Linked DNA regions of Homo sapiens. The protein of the gene in region 2 interacts with the protein of the main gene of each other region in a biochemical or structural test. Each region holds a gene or a part of one and is shown on either strand. Other genes may lie near its edges. The genes, in order: TERT and PINX1.

Region 1 (4,019 bases), on a different chromosome or scaffold from region 2:
CATCCAACTCACAGCAGGGCCTGGCAACCTCACCCCAGACCTGCACCATCCGGACACCGCATATCCAGCTCACCGCACGGTCTGGCACCGTCTGGCGACCTCACTCCAGACCTGCACCATCCAGACACCGCACACCCAGCTCACCGCAGGGCCTGGTGACCTCACCCCAGACCTGCACCATCCAGACACCACACATCCAGCTCACAGCAGGGCCTGGCGACCTCACCCCGGACCTGCATCATCCGGACTCCATACCTCCAGCTCACCGAGGGCCTGGAGACCTCACCCCTGACCTGCACCATCCAGACACCACACATCCAGCTCACAGCAGGGCCTGGCGACCTCACCCCGGACCTGCATCATCCGGACTCCATACCTCCAGCTCACCGAGGGCCTGGAGACCTCACCCCTGACCTGCACCATCCAGACACCACACATCCAGCTCACAGCAGGGCCTGGCGACCTCATCCCAGACGTGCACCATCCGGACACTGCACATCCAGCTCACTGAGGGCCTGGCGACCTCATCCCGGACCTGCACCATCTGGTACAACAGCCATGGCCATGGGAAGCCCAGCAGGTCCAGGCCGAGATGGCCACGCACGGGACCTACACACGGGATCCCGCAGACAAAGCTCAAAAAATGTCAAATGTCCTGTGAGTGATGCTCCCACCAATAACACCCTAAAATGATGAGGTGTGGACATGCTGGGCTTCAGTAAAATCTATTATTACATTAATTTCACCTTTTCTTTTTTACTTTTTTAATGTGGCTACTAGAATTTTTTTTTTTTTTTTTTTTTTTGAGACAGAGTCTCGCTGTGTTGCCAGGCTGGAGTGCAGTGGTGCAATGTCGGCTCACTGCAACTTCCAACTCCCAGGTTCAAGCAATTCTCCTGCCTCAGCCTCCCGAGTAGCTGGGATTACAGGCACCCGCCACCACGCCCAGCTAATTTTTGTGTTTTTAGTACAGATGGGGTTTCATCATGTTGGCCAGGATGGTCTCGACCTCCTGACCTCGTGATCCACCCGCCTTGGCCTCCCAAAGTGCTGGGATTACAGGCGTGAGCCACCGCGCCCAGCCTAGAAATTTTAAAATTATCCACATGGCTCACGTCATGCTCCTGTTGGGCGACAACGGCTCGGAGCCTCATCCTTTGTCCTGGTTCCCAAGCAGAAGGGAGGAAGCAGACACTCCCCCGCCAGGCAGCACCGTCAGAGCTGGCGCCACACCGCAGGTTTGCGCGATTTCAAACTCGACACCGCGGAGCCACCAGACCCCGACATGCCTGGGGTTTTCCAGGCTGAACCCAGGCCGAGCGGACGTTGCTGTCACTCACTGGCTAAGGAACGCTGGCCACGTGGTGCTCCAGACACTCACGGGCCAAGATGACCGCCCTCCTCGTGAGTCTCCACATCTTCATCTGTGCATCATAAGCAGAGGTCCCCGGACGTCGCTAGATGCCATGGAGGCCAGCACAGGTAAAGCTGGGGTTTACCAGCAATAACAAGACAGAAGAACCACGCAAAGGACAAGGAAGGGGACCCCAGACGGCGGGCCTGAGACAGAAGACAGACGGGGAACAAAGGAGGAAAAGCAGGGCGGGGGCAAAGCTACAGAAACACTCAACACGGAAAACAATATTAATAATGCTTAGCTTGTGGGGGTGTCAAGATGCCTGAGATAGAACTAAGTCAGCAGGGAAAACAGCACACAGGCTGGGGGGTGGCCAGAGCTAAAATACACTAAGGGTCTTATTGCTCAGGACAAGGGTAGCAATGTTTCAGACTTCATTTTAAAAGATCAAGGTATGCCGGGCACGGTGGCTTGCACCTGTAATCCCAGCACTGTGGGAGGCCAAGGCGGGCAGATCACTTGAGGTCAGGAGTTTGAGACCAGCCTGGCCAACATGGTGAAAGCCTATCTCTACTAAAAATACAAAAATTAGCCAGGCGTGGTGGTGGGCGCCTGTAATCCCAGCTACTCATGAGGTTGAGGAATGAGAACTGCTTGAACCGAGGAGGCAGAGGTTGCAGTGAGCCGAGATTGTGCCATTACACTCCAGCCTGGGTGACAGAGTGAGACTGTCTCAATAAACAAAAGCAAACAACGACAATAAAAAGATCAGGGGGTAACACTAAGCAAAGAGAAATAAAAGCAAATGCCCAGTGACCAGGAGGCAACGAGAGGATCAACACACACTCGGCAGGAAACGCACATGGCAACCCAAGAGGTGGTGAGAAACAAGGGAACGAGGACATGCAACAGGCAAGTGGAGAATCAGAGTGCACCAGGCGGGTCTCTAGTGACAAAAAAATGAAAATAAATCAGGTTATCCAGTTAAACAACGACTGTCAGACTGGATTGGAAATTCACCTACATGCTGTTAACAGGACATACCCACACTATAAGAATATAAAAGTGTTGAAAATTAGGCCAGACATGGTGGCTCATGCCTGTAATTCAGCACTTTGGGAAGCCGAGGTAGATGGATCCCTTGAGTCCAAGAGTTTGAGACCAGCCTGGGCAACACAGCAAGACCCTGTCTCCAGAAAAAATTTAAAAATTAGCCAGGTGTAGCGGTGCGTGTCTGCAGTTCCAGCTATTCAGGAGGCTGAGGTGAGAGGACGGCTCAGGCCAGAAGGTAAAAGTTACACTGACCTGTGATCACACCACTGCACTCACCCTGGGCGACAGACCAAGACTCTGTCTCAAAAAAAAAAAATATATATATATATATATAAATTAAAGGCAGAAAACAGACACAGCAGGAAAATACTAATCAAAAGAAGCCCAGTGTGGCAGTACTAAGAGCAATTTAAAAAAAGAATTACTAGATTACTAGAGACATAGAAGTCTCCAAAAGATTCACTCATCAGGAAGATAAAAATTCTACCACGTGCATGCACCTAACAATGCCTCACATAAATGCTACCAAACGAGAAGAAATGAACAGACCCATCCCCCAGGTGAGGGACTATGGCCTCCTTCTTGGAATTTCATGCATCTAGAAGGAGACAGAAGCTTTGCACTGGACCTTAATAAGCTGGATATAGTGAACATGCATGCCCACTATTGACAGGATGTCAAATTTACAATGGACAGTTCTGGAAACCATGCACACACTAGATCACAAAGCAAGGCTCCGCAAACTTCAAATAATTGGTATTATACAGACCACTACACAACTGAGTTAGAAATCAATAATAAAATGATAACTTAAAATACTCTACGTATCTTGATACTCTACATATCTTGAACATAAACAGTGTTCAAATAACTCACTGCTCAAAGAAATCACAGAATAAGCTAAAGAATACTTAAAAGTCACTGATATCAAAATGATTTCACGTCAAAACACAGCGTGCACAAAGAAAAAAATCACAGAATAAGAATACTTAAAAGAAGTATTAACACTTTGAAGTATTTTAAGAACACTTGAAAGTGGCTGATGTTGAGATTACTTCACATCAAAACACAGGGTGCAGGTAAGGCAGCACTTAGAGGGAAAGGCATGACTAAACTAAGAAGCTAGAAAAGGAATGAAAGAATAAACCAAGAAAAAGCATACAATGGAGAGATAGAAACGTCAGAGGTAAATCAGTGAAATTCAAAACTAAGACCCAAGAGGGAAGTCTGACGAAGGCTGGCGGAGACACCGGCCCTCCACGTGGGTCTCAGAGCAGGAGACAGACAGAGACACTCCAACCTGTGGCTGGACGTCAATCCATGTGAGGGGGCGACTGGAGGCAGAGCCCAGCCTAAGCAATGAGCGGCAGGTGCCCAGAATAAGGTGACAAGCGTTGCCACCCACCCAAGGGGGCCAAGCAGAGGGGCAGCTTGGGAGAAAACAGGACAAGTGAGGGGGCTGGGGTGACTTGCTTTCCTTCAGGGCACAGAGAACCCTTTCTGGGATGTCTCCAGCAACACGTGGCAGCAGACACAGGCAGCCCAGAGTCCAGCCTCGGCATGAGACAAGCTGGGAGAGGAGTATTGGCAGCATGCATGTGGCGGGCAC
Region 2 (3,500 bases):
CACTGAGCATGGCTAAGTGCAGGAAGTAGATCATGGAAACGACAATCGGCCTTTAGCACTGGGTAGTGACCCCTGCAGATCTGAGCAGCCTCAGCATCAAACGGAGAGACCATGTGGTCTGTACACACGATATTCCACTCCTAATCAGACGATTCTGTCGGCAGCTGTGATTGTCAGGGTCACGGGCGGTGTTGGAGGGGTATGCAACTATGATTGGGGTTAGCACAAGGGAGGCCTTGGTGGTAATGAAATAGTTCAGGATCTTCACTGAGATAATAATGGTTACACAATCCACAAATGTGATAAAGGGGCACAGAGCTGTATGAGCAGATGGTACCAATGCCAATTTCCTGGTTTCATCATGCTGTACTGTAGTTACGTAAGATGTAACCACTGGGGAAAACCAGATGAAGGGTACACAGAACCCCTTTACTATCTTTGCAACATCCTGTTCATCTATAAAAAGTTAAAGAAAAAACCCTCATGACTATTAATCAAGGGCTGCAGATGTTTCTTAGATATAAATACATTCAGATCATCCAGTTCAATAGAGAGACGAAAAAATACACAAGCAACACAACATCTATGCTCCAGATGCTCAAGCTCTTTCTTAATTCAGCCTCCAGCCAATAAGGAAGTCAAGTCGTTCTTCAGGCTGGCCTGGACACCTGGTCACATGCTTGTCAACCCCTAACAGCTCACCTCTGACTACAGGTAAGGTAAAGAAGTTTTGAAATTTAAACCATTATTTTCCACAAAATAGCAACAGCCAATCATTTTCCCACAAAGTTACGATACAGCATCAACCACTGGTGTCTCTGGTGAAGCTCAACAGAAGCTGCTAAGGCCTAACTAACCCCCTTCAATGTAGATTTTTTGTTAAATGAGAAAGAGTTCATTAACTTCGGCAGGACTGCTGTATTATCGGAGAAAGGCTGATTTTGGAATTGGACGGACACAGATTTAAAAGCCCACGTGTGCCATTTTGGAGCATTCTAACAATTCTCTCTGTGCCTCAGTTTCCTCACTGCTACAGAGGAGATACTGATATTTACATGACGGGATTGCTGTGAGGATGAAATGAGAAAAATCCAGCACAGGGTTTGGCACACAGGTGCTTAATAAAATTGGAATTCTACGATGGCAGTCAGGAGCTGTAGAAATTAAAATCAGTAGGCTTCCCTTATTGCAAGGGTGATGCTGTTACCCAAGCCAAGAACATGGTTAACGCCAACGTTCTGGAACTCTGGATGCTGAAGACAGATCAGCATCGGCACCTAACTAGAGCACCCACAGAGCTACTGCTACCTTAGTGGCCCGCACTACCACGGTTTCCAGGACTCTGGAGGGAGGTGACCTCCAGCAACACCTTGGCCTCTGCAATGCCAAATATAAATCCAGACCGACGGAGCTATGAGAGTCAAGCGAAGCAACAACATACAACATTCCCGCCAACTGAGGATGGGAGCCGAAAGAGGTTGTATTTTCAAACAAATCTGATCAAAGTCCTCCTGCCTTTGACTATAAGGGCTGTTGTAACTAACAAGGTTAAGGTTTCTTAGCAATAGTCTACTCAAGGAAGGTACCGGTATACCTCAATAAAAGCAAACTTAACATATGAACATCCACAAGGATGTCAAAGATAAATGTAGAGGTCATTTTGCTTTATAGAAAGATACTCTGTTTGTCTTAAATGTGATTACATTTAAATAGATTCTGTTTTCTGCACACATGCAGGCATGTCAAAAGGAAAATACTGCCTAGACGCGACCTCCTCAGTGTGGCACACAGGTCAGCAGCAGTATCACCTGGGGGCTCCTCGGATGGGGATGTACAGGCTCTCAGCCCCCGCCCAGGCTTCCTGAGTTGGAATCTGCAGTTTGACAGGGAAGACCTGTACACACGGCAGGACTTGAGGAGCTCTGTCCTCAGGGTTACTCACGACCCGGAAGCCAGAAGCTCTCAGTACAGCTGCATGGCAGGCTATCCCCGTGTTCTCAACCCTCGCTCCTTACTGAACGTCAGAATAACTGCTGCAACAATTGGGGAGGAATTAAAAAAAAATTTTTTTTAAATTTTTCTCCTTTTGTAATATAGATACCTGGACCCTGACCGAAGATTTAATTTAATCGGTCTTGGGCAGAACCCTGGCATTAGCATTTGTTTAAAGCTCATTAGGCAATGCCAGGACGACCTTGTTGAGAACTATGGCTACAGACGGAGAGCAGGGCCTGGTAGAAGACCACCTCACCAACAGGTAGGACCTAAATTTATCACTGGAAGAAAACACTGAACTGGAAGAGAGAGAGAGATGTGACTAATGGAAATCTCACACAAAACACGATGTTGCATCAAGGTTGATCATCTCTACACACACTGGACCAAAAGAGATTTTCCTGGGGCTAGCATTAGGGAACTGCTTTTGAAGCTCCTCAAACACAGGTGGATGTCTCACTTTAACATGACTTAGCTACCAAAGAGTCAAGTAACACCACACAGTGTTGAAAACCTCAAGGCACCCAACACCCAATAAATTCTCAAACAGAAATCTGCCAGAGGATCAGAAACCTCTGATCTCTTACAACTAAGAGCTTTCTGCACCAAACACATAAATTCTCTTAAAGTTCTACAAAAGCCCACAAGTAACATTTCCCTCCCTGATCTGTTCAACTGTACATTTTCATAGAGGGTGTCCGGGAGGGCAAAGGCTGGGGGTGGTGGGTGAGCAGCAGGCAGAAGAGAGGATCAACGTGCAGGGATGTGGAAACGCCAGTACAGAAGGCACGTGAGCCCCACGGGGCTGGGGAGATGGGGGTTATCTCAAGGTATGGGAGGGACGTGGAGTTGATACAAAGGCTCAGGGTGTGATCGTGGGGTGGGGGCAGCTGTTGGGCAGAGCAAAGGAGATGGAGTTCAAGAGGCGCGGGACTGGAATTCTAGTTCTTCCTGAGGACACGGAGACGACTGAGAGAGTCAAGGAAGAGGGGTTGGAGAGGAGGCTGGGATAAGCCAGAGGCCATGTCCTTGGTGAACAAGGAAGAGTGGCGTAGTCCAGGTCTCACGGTGAGCACTGAGGGCAGAGGTACAACCAGAAGCCAGCCTGTCTGACCATGGCTCTTTCCAGCAGCCCCTTGTGAAGGAGCAGCCGGCACGGCCGGATGTCAGAGCGGCTCCTCCCTAGTGACCACTGCCTATCCCGTGACTCAGCATAGTCCGCGCAGGCACCAAAGCCAGGTATCCTTTCCCAGCCTGCTGCTTCCATCTGCTGAGGGTGCAGGGGCAGACAGGGGCTAAAAGACCCAGGAATTCAGTCCCAATCTGCACAGGGAATCATCTAATGAGACTTCTAACCACTGGTAATTCTGGACTCCCTAAAAATTATTACTATTAAGAAACAAACCACCACCCTAGAAATAAAGATTTCTGTCAGTCTGGAAAAATGCCAGGAATCAATAAACCAAGTCTTCTTTTTTGTTCTATGGTCACCAAGGGCCCTGGCT

Evidence for each region.
Region 1: the proteins of PINX1 (region 2) and TERT form a complex in vitro, tested with the Homo sapiens proteins (one study listed by BioGRID).

What each region holds. Positions count from the first base shown.
Region 1 is NC_000005.10:1,284,784-1,288,802, forward strand, and holds part of TERT (telomerase reverse transcriptase), read right to left. Parts: intron 1-4,019. UniProt on the Homo sapiens protein: Telomerase is a ribonucleoprotein enzyme essential for the replication of chromosome termini in most eukaryotes. Active in progenitor and cancer cells. Inactive, or very low activity, in normal somatic cells.
Region 2 is NC_000008.11:10,815,876-10,819,375, forward strand, and holds part of PINX1 (PIN2/TERF1-interacting telomerase inhibitor 1), read right to left. Parts: intron 1-3,500. UniProt on the Homo sapiens protein: Microtubule-binding protein essential for faithful chromosome segregation. Mediates TRF1 and TERT accumulation in nucleolus and enhances TRF1 binding to telomeres. Inhibits telomerase activity. May inhibit cell proliferation and act as tumor suppressor.